3 linked regions of the Homo sapiens genome follow. The protein of the gene in region 1 purifies or fractionates together with the protein of each later gene. This does not show direct contact. Each region holds a gene or a part of one and is shown on either strand. Other genes may lie near its edges.

Region 1 (3,672 bases):
TGCCCAGGTGAAAATGGCCTATGTGAACTTCGTGAACCACTGCTACGTGGACACGGAGGTGGAGATGAAGGAGATCTACACCAGCAACCACATCTGGACGCTCTTTGAGAACTTCACCCTGGACATGGCCCGGGTCTGTCCCTGTGAGGGGTGTGGGTGAAGCCCCCCAGGAGGTGTGGGAGTGGAGGGGCCCCATGTGAGGAGCCCCCAGCCATCCCTCTCTCCTGCCTCAGGTCTGCAGCAAGCGTGAGAAGCGCGTGGCTGACCCCACCTTGGAGAAGTACGTGCTGAGCGTTGTGCTGGACACCATCAACGCCTTCTTCAGCTCCCCATTCTCTGAGAACAGCACTTCCCTGCAGGTGAGCTTCTCCTCTCCCACCACCCCAGGGCCGACTTGCCTAGCTTTTGTGAAGGGAAGGGGGGAAATAAGAATACATATTTATATTTGCTTATAGTACAGAAAGAAGTAACAAAAGGATACATAAGTGTATTGGTTATCTTTTTTTTTTTTTTTTTTGAGATGGAGTTTCACTCTGTCGCCCAGGCTGGAGTGCAGTGGCGCGATCTCTGCTTACTGCAAGCTCTGCCTCCTGGGTTCACGCCATTCTCCTGCCTCAGCCTCCCGAGTAGCTGGGACTACAGGTGCCCGCCACCACGCCCAGCTAATTTTTGCATTTTTAGTAGAGACAGGGTTTCACCGTGTTAGCCAGGATGGTCTCAATCTCCTGACCTCATGATCCGCCCACCTCGGCTTCCCAAAGTGCTGGGATTACAGGTGTGAACCACCGCGCCCGGCCTAAGTATATTAGTTATCTATACCGTGTTAACAAATTATCCCCAAACCTAGCAGTTAAAACAACAAGCATTCGCTATCTCAGTTTCTGTGGGCCAGAATGACGGTGGGAATGGTACCATCCAGCAGGAACTCCTAACTCCAGTGGGTGGGCGGATCCCGGAGTGGCAGCACTTATTCACCAAAGATAAGGCAGACGTGCCATCCATGGGATGGTACAGCCAAAGCAGGGATCACGACAGTCTCCCTGGCAGGATCCTTCGTGCTGGCTAGTTGATCATAGTGATCTTAGAACTGAAATAGGCAGGCAGCCTTCTGAAGGCCTAAGCAGAAGGGCTCCAGGCCAGTGTACAGAAGCCTGATTTGAATCTCGAAAGATTCATGGCTCCTTGGTCAATCCCCAGATTCCCAGACTCGAGCCAGTGCTCAGCCCAGAGCCCCCCTGAATGAAAGCGAGCCAGGTTCCCTTAAGGAAGGGCCCTGCTACATGACCGAAATCAAAGAAACACTGGAAGGATACAAAAGAAACCCACAAAAGGGGCTACCTAGGGGCATAGGAGCTGGGGTGGGGTGGGATCGTGCTTCTAAGTCTGGGGGGAAAAATGCTGAGTCCTGCCTTCTCAGGAAGGGTGGTGTATTTTGACACACATTGTTTGGGCCCTGGGATCGCATTGGGACGATGGAACTCTGGTAATTGATATCAGCTTTCCCCATCCTTGATCAGCTCCAGGGCAATGAGGGTGATGGGGGAGAGACTTCTCAAAGTGTTATGTTTTTTTTTTTTGAGACGGAGTCTCACTTGGTGCCCCAGGCTAGAGTGCAGTAGCACAACCTTGGCTCACTTGCAACCCCTGCCTCCCAGGTTCAAGCAATTCTCCAGCCTCAGCCTCCTGAGTAGCTGGGATTATAGGCACCCGCCACCACGCCCGGCTAATTTTTGTATTTTTAGTAGAGACAGGGTTTCACCATGTTGGCCAGGCTGGTCTCGAACTCCTGACCGCAAGTCATCCACCCACCTTGGCCTCCCAAAGTGCTGACATTACACGTGTGAGCCACTGCGCCCAGCCTCAAAGTGTTATCTTTTAAATAACCTTTTGGTTTTTCAACCATGTAAATCCATCACCTTTTTATGACATTAATTTTTTTAAACATTTTTTAAAAGGGTCAGCAACATGGCTATGAGCCCACGGCCTTGGTGAGTTACAGGGCTGCCGTGTACAGTTGGGCAGGTCGTGCACTGCTGAAGGGAATACAAGTACCTTTTTCCAACTGGCACAGAGGCACATGGTGGCTAGTGAAGGCTCCGTCTCTCCACCCATGCCCATTCTGATTGGGCCCTGGTTCCTGGACCTGGGGTTGCCCAGGGTGGGGGCCTGGGCTGCAGCAGCGGGCTCTGTGACTTCTTGCAGACACACCAGACGATTGTGGTGCAGCTGCTGCAGTCTACCACACGCCTCCTCGAGTGTCCGTGGCTACAGCAGCAGCACAAGGGCTCCGTGGAGGCCTGCATCCGGACCCTCGCCATGGTGGGTGAGTGTGCCGGGGCACTGGCCAGCCCCAAACCACTCCTCCTGCCGCTCACAGTGGGGACGCCTGCCCTCCTAATAAACACTTTATCCCTAAGCTCGCCCATCTCCTGCTCCCAGGTGGTTGTCAGTAAGTTCTTCTTGGCGTCTGCCTCATCCTGGCAATTGAGAGAAGCTGTTTTCTCCTCTGGGTCAGTTCCCCAGAGAAGGATGCTCGCCGACATTCTCCAGCTAGTTTTTTATGGGTATTTGCAGATGGGCTCAGGCAGGAGCAGGCCTGTGGATTGTTAGGGACAGTTGGGGAAGAAGAGAGGACAGGTGAGAGAGAGGAAGGGGAAGTCAGGGTAGAGCCGGGGGGAATCAAAGAGGCAGAAACTCCTTTTACCCAACAAGGGGAAGAAAGCCTCTCAGTCCCTCAAGCATAGGCCGGGGTGGGGGGGGTCTCTGTCTCCCAGACCCTTGGTCTAGTTCACTCTGTCTCCTGGTGTGGCAGCCCTGAGCCTGGCCTCTGGCTGGCTGAACTGCCCCCGCACCAGCACTCCAGCACTCCCTCCCTTCCCACCCAGCCAAGGGCCGGGCCATCTTGCTGCCCATGGACCTGGATGCCCACATCAGCTCGATGCTCAGCAGTGGAGCCAGCTGTGCAGCTGCCGCCCAGCGGAACGCCTCCAGCTACAAGGCAACCACGCGGGCCTTCCCCCGCGTCACCCCCACCGCCAACCAGTGGGACTACAAGAACATCATTGAGAAGCTGCAGGTGGGTGTGGGGCTGCCTGGCATCTGCCTCGGGAGCTGCTTGGTTGAGTCAGCAGCTCCCCTACTTTGGAGGGGCAAGTTCTCGGGGAGTGTTTCTTCCTGTCCTGCCCACACTTCCAGGAAGGGGCTGGTTGGCTTCTCTACACTCTGGGGCTGCTAAGGGCCGACCCAGCAGCAAGGGACTGGGGAACCTCCTTCCAGAGGAAGCCTGGAGAACCCAGAGGCCTGCTAGTGGGGTTGGAGCTCATGAGGGGGTCGGGACCACCCCTCACTCCTGCAGCGCCCTCCTGTCTATGCAGCACATTTCTGTGCGCTGTCTCGTTGGCCTGTAGAGGGGGTGTGGTGGATTATTTTCCCCACGTGGCAGGAGACTGAGGCTCAGAGAGGCTAAGGGGTTTGCCCAAGGTCACACAGAGCTGGGAGAGAAGCCAGGCTTGGCAGCTCCCAGCCAGGGCTCTGAGCAGACAGACATCACGCTGTGTTCAGGGTGTCTCTGTGGGTGTGGGCCCCTCAGACAGAGGCAGGGCAATCTGTGGGGCTGTTTGGCGTTTGGGTCGGAGGAATGGCAGTCACACCCGGGTCATTTCTTGGGCCTGG
Region 2 (3,672 bases), on another chromosome or scaffold:
GGGCACCCACATTACTGACACTCATGCATACAGTAGGTGTTCAAATCTGTGCTGCCTGAATTGGGATTTTGAAAGAAGGCCCCATAACTTCTGCTTCCCTTGGTGGCAGGCGATGGGAGGGAGGTGACCCTGGTGTGTCCAATCAGAAGACTCCAACCACCATCTTGCTGACTCCCGAGAGGAAGTTCCACAGCTTCGGGTATGCCGCCAGGGACTTTTACCATGACCTGGATCCCAATGAGGCCAAGCAGTGGCTGTACCTGGAGAAGTTCAAGATGAAGCTGCACACCACTGGGGTGAGCAAGCCTCTCCCCTGGGCCCAGGTCCCCCGCAATGGAGTGCCAAGCTTCCTCCAGCCTTGGGGTGGGGAAGGGATGTCCTCCCAACCCAGGGGGCCCTCTGGTCTCTTCCAAGCAGAAATCAGTGTCCATTTACCTTGATTTTAGACACAACCTGGAGCACACAGTGCTTTTGTGGAATATGCGATGCTTTCCAATGTGCATGTGGGCAGGGAGATATTCTGAATATTTAACAACTCGTTTGTCTTGGAAATGGACCTATCAGAGTAGACCCTGGTTATACCAGGGAAGTGGGGTGCTGGGGCCCTCCTGCTGTGCCAGGAGTTCTCCCTTTAGTTTCTGGATTATTGAGAGATCAGTGTATCATGAAGGATCCACTTGGGGGCTAGGGACACATGGCGAGCTCAGGGCAGTAGCTCTTAACTAACCAGTTTGGATGTAACAACCAGTAACAACTGGTACATCCAGCTCTTTATGTGGGGAGGGGGAGCTCAGGACATCAAGTGCCCAATAATTGGAGGTCCAACTCCCTGAGTGGTGTCCTCAGCTCCCAGCAAGCCAGTGTTCCATAAGACACCTACATCAAACAGGCACCCCCTGCCACCCCGAAGCTTCGTAGAAAAGGATAGGGCATAGGACAGAACTTTTTTGAGTTAAGCATTTTATTCCATAAAGTTTCCTTAACTGTCAGTGCTTAGAAAGGCAGGATGATGATGATGTTTAAGAACACGGACTCTGGGGCCAGATGGCCTGGGTTTCAATCTGGTCACTGGTACCTTTGAGAAATGTAATCCAAGTTATGTAACCCCTCCCTGCCTTGTTTTATCTTCTCTGTCAAATGGAGACAATAGCAGTGCCTTCCTCATGGGGATTTTGTAGGGATTAAAGGAATCAAAATACGTAAAGCTCTTAGAGCCATGCCTGGTGCAGATTAAGTTCTAGTCAAGTGCAAGCTCCTATTCTAATTGCTTTCATTTGTCTGCTGAGCACTTGCAGATGACAAAGCAAACATAAGTGGGAAACTCAGCAGCCAGCACCCTGCCTTTCAAGGCTCTGTGCCCATCGGCGTGGTTGTCCTTCTATGGTGCAGACCAAGTTCTGCTAGAAATGAACTGTTCCTATTTTGCCTAATGGGATTCAATGCTGAGTATCAGGATGGCAGGTGGAAGGAAGCACAGGGATTTTTTTCAATTCAGAGCCATGGTTTCCTGGCACTTGACCACCTTTCTGAGCCTGGGAGCTGCTGCCCTAAAGCTGGGGTATCTTTGTTGGGCACCAGGAGCAGAAGGCAGCTGGCTGGGAGGAGTGAGCAAGTGCAGATAGGTCAGGATGCCACAGACGGGCTCCACATGGCTAGCTTAGTAACTCAATGCCCGTTTTCACTCCCAAGGCAAAGCATAATTACCCAGCCTGGGACAATCTGGAGGCCCCAGTGATTTTTTTCCCCCTGGCAGTAATGAGTTTGTTGGTTCAGGAGACCTGGGGGCTTCCTCCTGATTTTTGCTCTCACTCCCTGCCCATCCCTACCCCACAGGGACTTTTCTCATCATTTTTTAATGATCTCCGTCCACCAGCATCTAGGCTCTGCAGAGCATCCTCTCTCTGGGACCACACTCAGCAGCTGCTTTCACTTTTGGTGGAGAGAGGAAAGCAGTGATGCTGGGCTCCTGGCGGATTAGATAGGGCAAGCCTTAAAATAGGAGCTCTTCTATTTTGGTGACTTGGTTGGCAGCGTAATGGGGAATGAAAGCTTCGTCTGTTTAGCATCGTGGATGGCAGTGGGTTGGTACGATTAGGCCTCCATCAGGGGGGATCCTGAGCGTGACCATGTGTGTTCGAATGTGGAAATTGTACGGAAATTGCATGGGGAGTGGCACCTGCTGCCTATTCTCTCTTCCTGACTTCTACTGTTGCCCCTGAAACCTTTGCTCCCAGAGGATCCAGGAGCTAGAGGGAGAGAAGGAGGGAGCAGTGAAGGTGGGGCCTGGAGGGGACAGCCAGAGCCTCCTACACAGTAAGGGGACACTGCTGCCAGCCCCCATTTTGGGGGATGCGCCATCCTAGTCTGCCTCTTTAAGCATGGGGGAACACAGACATGGCTCACCAGGATCCTCTAGGTCCCCTTGGAGCAGTCCCCAAAGCCAGGAGACATGTTTCTCCTGTGTCATCTTCTTACTATTGTTCCTCTTCCTCCTACCAGGACCTCACCATGGATACAGACCTGACGGCAGCAAATGGCAAGAAAGTCAAAGCCCTTGAAATCTTTGCTTATGCCCTGCAGTACTTTAAGGAGCAGGCGCTGAAGGTAGGACTGATAGTTGAGGCCAGCCAGCTGTGTGCTAGGCGGTGGCACCCGTGCCAGCTCCGTGTCTCGGGCTGCTGCACCTGCTGGCCAGGGTAGGAGGCACAGCCTGGAGGGAGAGTGTGGGCTTTGGAGTCAACACAACAGGATGAACCCTCACACGCTGCTGGTGGGAAAGTAAAATGGTGCGGCCTCTTTGGAAAACAGTTTGGCAATTCCTAAAAAAGTAAAGCACAGAGTTACCGTAGGACCCAGCAGCTCCACTCCTGGGTGGAGAAATGAAAGAAATCCCTAAGAGAAATGAAAGAAGAAATGAAATCCCTAAGAGAAATGAAATCCCTAAGAGAAATGAAAGAAGATGTCCACACACACGTATACATGAATGTGCATAGCAACATTATTCATAACTGTGAAAAGTAGAAACAGTCCACATGCTGTCCACACAAACACACGTATACATGAATGTGCATAGCAACATTATTCACAACGACGAAAATCGGAAAAAATCCACATGCCCATCCACTGATGAATGGAGAAACAAAATGTGATCTATCTTACAATGAATGTTATTCAGCCAGAAACAAAATGTGATCTATCTTACAATGAATGTTATTCATCAGTAGGATGAACTACTGATACATCCTACCACATGGAGAAACCTTGAAAACGCCATGTGAAGTGAAAGAAGCCAGATACAGATAGCCACATAGCATGTGATTCCAGTTCTATGAAATGTCCAGAACAGGCACCTTCACAGAAACAGAAAGCAGAGACTTTTTCTGCGCAGGGCTGCAGGGAGTGGGAATAGGAGCGACTGCTGAAGGATATGAGTTTCTTTGAGGAGTGATGAAATTAGGTAATGGGGTTGGGCGCACAACCTTGTGAATATACGAAAACCCACTGAACTACACACTTTATAACTGGGAATTTTATGGTATGGAAATTATATCTGAGTAAAACAAAAAGAGAGGCAGGAAACATACTTAGCAGCTGTGCCATTTTGGTCAAGGTACTTAATCTTTCCAAGATCCACTTTCCTAACTGGAGAGTGGGGTGGGTAACTGTACCTCA
Region 3 (2,875 bases), on another chromosome or scaffold:
TGGGACTACAGGCGCACGCCACCATGCTGGCTAATTTTTTTTTTTTTTTTTGTATTTTTAGTAGAGATGGGGTTTCGCCATGTTGGCCAGGCTGGTCTTGAACTCCTGACCTCAGGTGATCCTCCCGCCTCAGCCTCCCAAAGCACTGGGATTACAGGCATAAGCCACTGCGCCCAGCCAAAAGTGGGCAAGTTTCTAGACCACTTTCACTTTGGCCTCACTGTTCTCATTTGCACATGAGGACAATAATAGTACCTTTGTAGGGTTGCCATGAGCATTACATGAGATAACCCATGTAGAACATTTAAACGGTGCTGGGAACATCACTCAGGAACCCGTGAGCAGGGAGAAAACATTCATTCACTCACTCATTCATTCATTTATTGAGCTAGTGTACATGGAGTACCTACTGAATGCCAGCCACTGTGCACAGTAGGTGACAATGATTGATAGGCATGAAGAGATATGGCTCTGTTCTCTTACTGGGAGCCTACAATAATGCTCAATAAATGTTAGATATTGTTATTAGTGGTATTCAGGTTAGTCTGGGTCCAAGTGAAGTTACATAGGAAGGTGTGTGGGGAGACAAGGAGACCAATGTGAGAATGTTAGAGTGAGGGGGATACAGAAAATGAAAAGTAGGGAGTGGGGGAAGCAATTTGTCCTCAAAGTTTCCCACACAGAGTCAGTTCAGAAACACATGGAAGAGGAAATGGGATGAAATCTCTTGAGGAAAACTGAAGGCAATCTAAGGATTGTTTTACAAGAATAAAAATCATTGCTCGGGGAATACTCCTTGGGTTGAAGTAAAAATATTTGTGAAACATGATGTCATATGTTTAACCTGCTCTGCTTTACTGAAGGGGAAAGTGGAGATGACATTGGAAATCCTCAACGAGAAGGAGGCCGACGAGAGGCCAGCCGGGAAGGGGCGGGACGAACCCAACATGAACCCCAAGCTGGACTTACCAAAGTGAGAGGCCTTCTTTGTTCTCCCACTCCCCAAACACCTGCAGGCTGAGAGCCCCCCTTCCCATTGGCTTAATGGGATGGATTAGCTTTTGTGGTCCTCCTAATCTGGTATTTAATAGTGGTGGGTGGGGGTGGAGAGGTTGGTGATCTGGCTTCATTTTAAGAATTCTCCTTTCCAGGAAACCAAAGTTCAGCATCTTAGGAAGCTGTCGTAGGTTAAAGAGCCTTTCTCAGTCAACGAAGGGGAACAGTATTTTTTCTTGACCTTATTAATGTGATTCTTTATTCCTGAAACTGTGTTATGCTCTGGAATAAAATATGCATCCCTCCTGAGTTGGGTAGGTGATACTGTTTCTTTGCAATGCAGTCGACCAGAAACCTCCTTCCTCTGGTTCACCAACCCATGCAAGACCATGAAGTTCATCGTGTGGCGCCGCTTTAAGTGGGTCATCATCGGCTTGCTGTTCCTGCTTATCCTGCTGCTCTTCGTGGCCGTGCTCCTCTACTCTTTGCCGGTAGGAGCCCTTCCTTGGCCCCTTGTCTTGGCTTTCTTGTGAGTTGCAGTTGGTCCTCTCCCTTGGCATCTGCCCTGACCACTGTGCAGAAGAATGACCCGCTCAGCAGCATGGGGTTGTAACCCTTCTGCTTTGGGGAAATTTAAAGTAATGTGTCTTGTAATTAGAATCACATTCTCAGGGTTTCACAAATTACGGGCAGAACTTTTCTTTATGATCTGAAAATAACTTTGGTTTCAGGAATTCTAGGAGAAATCACTCAGGTCTCGGTCAGTGTGTGTCTGGACTATGGCCAGCGTTTCCAGCTGATCTTCCTGCCTTCAGACTTTCTTGTTCCAAACCATCCTGCATCCTAATTCCTTGTCCTAGCTTCAAGAATCCCCAAATCTGGGTTCATTGTGGGTCTACATATACCTTGTGTTCCACCCAAACTAGATCATTGATCCCAACCTCCCCAAATATTATTGCCCTTACCTATCTGGATGCCTTTGCCAATTTTGTTTCTCTGTCCACATTTATCTATCAAAACCTCACTCATTTTTTAAGGCTCATGTCACGTATAACCTCCCCCTTAAATGTTCCCCTAATCACCCCAGTCATAAACGGGAGTCCAAGTGGGAGATTTGGCAGCTTGCCTAGAAGTAGTACCTCCCTTCCTCCATCCAGAGGATGTATTGCGCATCTACGACAGGCTAGGAATTAAGTTATAGTGATGATTAAATTATTGGCATGATTTGTGCCCAAGAGCAGTTCATATTCTGGGAACAGGCAGCCACGGGAACAAGGACACATGACTAAGGGAGGTGAGCTGTTATGGAGACAGAAACAAACAACCGTGGGCACCCCCTGCTAAGACAGTTCCTCCAAGGAGGGGACATTCAAGTTTGCCAAGTGGAGAAGGGATAGTCCAGGCAGAGGAAGCCATGCTCAGAAGTTGGGCCAGTGGCACTGAATGTCACAGGAGACATTCAAAAGCTCTTACTCCAAAAACACATTAATAATAATATCAGCTGGGCGAGGTGGCTCATGCCTGTAATCCTGGCACTTTGGGAGGCCGAGGCGGGTGAATCACTTGAGGTCAGGAGTTCAAGACTAGCCTGGCCAACATAGCGAAACCCCGTCTCTACTAAAAATACAAAAATTAGTTGGGTGTGGTGGCACATGCCTGTAATCCCAGCTACTAGGGATGCTAAGATAGGATAATTGCTTGAACCTGGGAGGCGGAGGTTGCAGTGAGCTGAGACCACACCACTGCACTCCAACCTGGATGAAGAAGTGAGACTCTGTCTCAAAAAAATAGTATCGTAGCCATACAAGCAGCAGGGGTTTTGTGTCTTCATTTTTCCCCAGTATAGTACTTCTAGTTTGTCATCTATGAGTATATGTAC

What was found. Proteins that work in one complex are often made in the same cells at the same time.
Region 2: the proteins of ITPR3 (region 1) and HSPA12A purify together in Homo sapiens (affinity purification with mass spectrometry; one large-scale study listed by BioGRID and IntAct). This does not show direct contact.
Region 3: the proteins of ITPR3 (region 1) and MYOF purify together in Homo sapiens (affinity purification with western blotting, with the first as the bait; one study listed by BioGRID). This does not show direct contact.

The regions. Positions count from the first base shown.
Region 1 is NC_000006.12:33,680,322-33,683,993, forward strand, and holds part of ITPR3 (inositol 1,4,5-trisphosphate-gated calcium channel ITPR3), read left to right. Parts: intron 1-7; coding exon 8-133; intron 134-233; coding exon 234-359; intron 360-2,202; coding exon 2,203-2,323; intron 2,324-2,885; coding exon 2,886-3,076; intron 3,077-3,672.
Region 2 is NC_000010.11:116,697,567-116,701,238, reverse strand, and holds part of HSPA12A (heat shock 70 kDa protein 12A), read left to right. Parts: intron 1-109; coding exon 110-296; intron 297-2,499; coding exon 2,500-2,604; intron 2,605-3,672. UniProt on the Homo sapiens protein: Adapter protein for SORL1, but not SORT1. Delays SORL1 internalization and affects SORL1 subcellular localization.
Region 3 is NC_000010.11:93,308,632-93,311,506, reverse strand, and holds part of MYOF (myoferlin), read left to right. Parts: intron 1-863; coding exon 864-973; intron 974-1,339; coding exon 1,340-1,487; intron 1,488-2,875. UniProt on the Homo sapiens protein: Calcium/phospholipid-binding protein that plays a role in the plasmalemma repair mechanism of endothelial cells that permits rapid resealing of membranes disrupted by mechanical stress. Involved in endocytic recycling.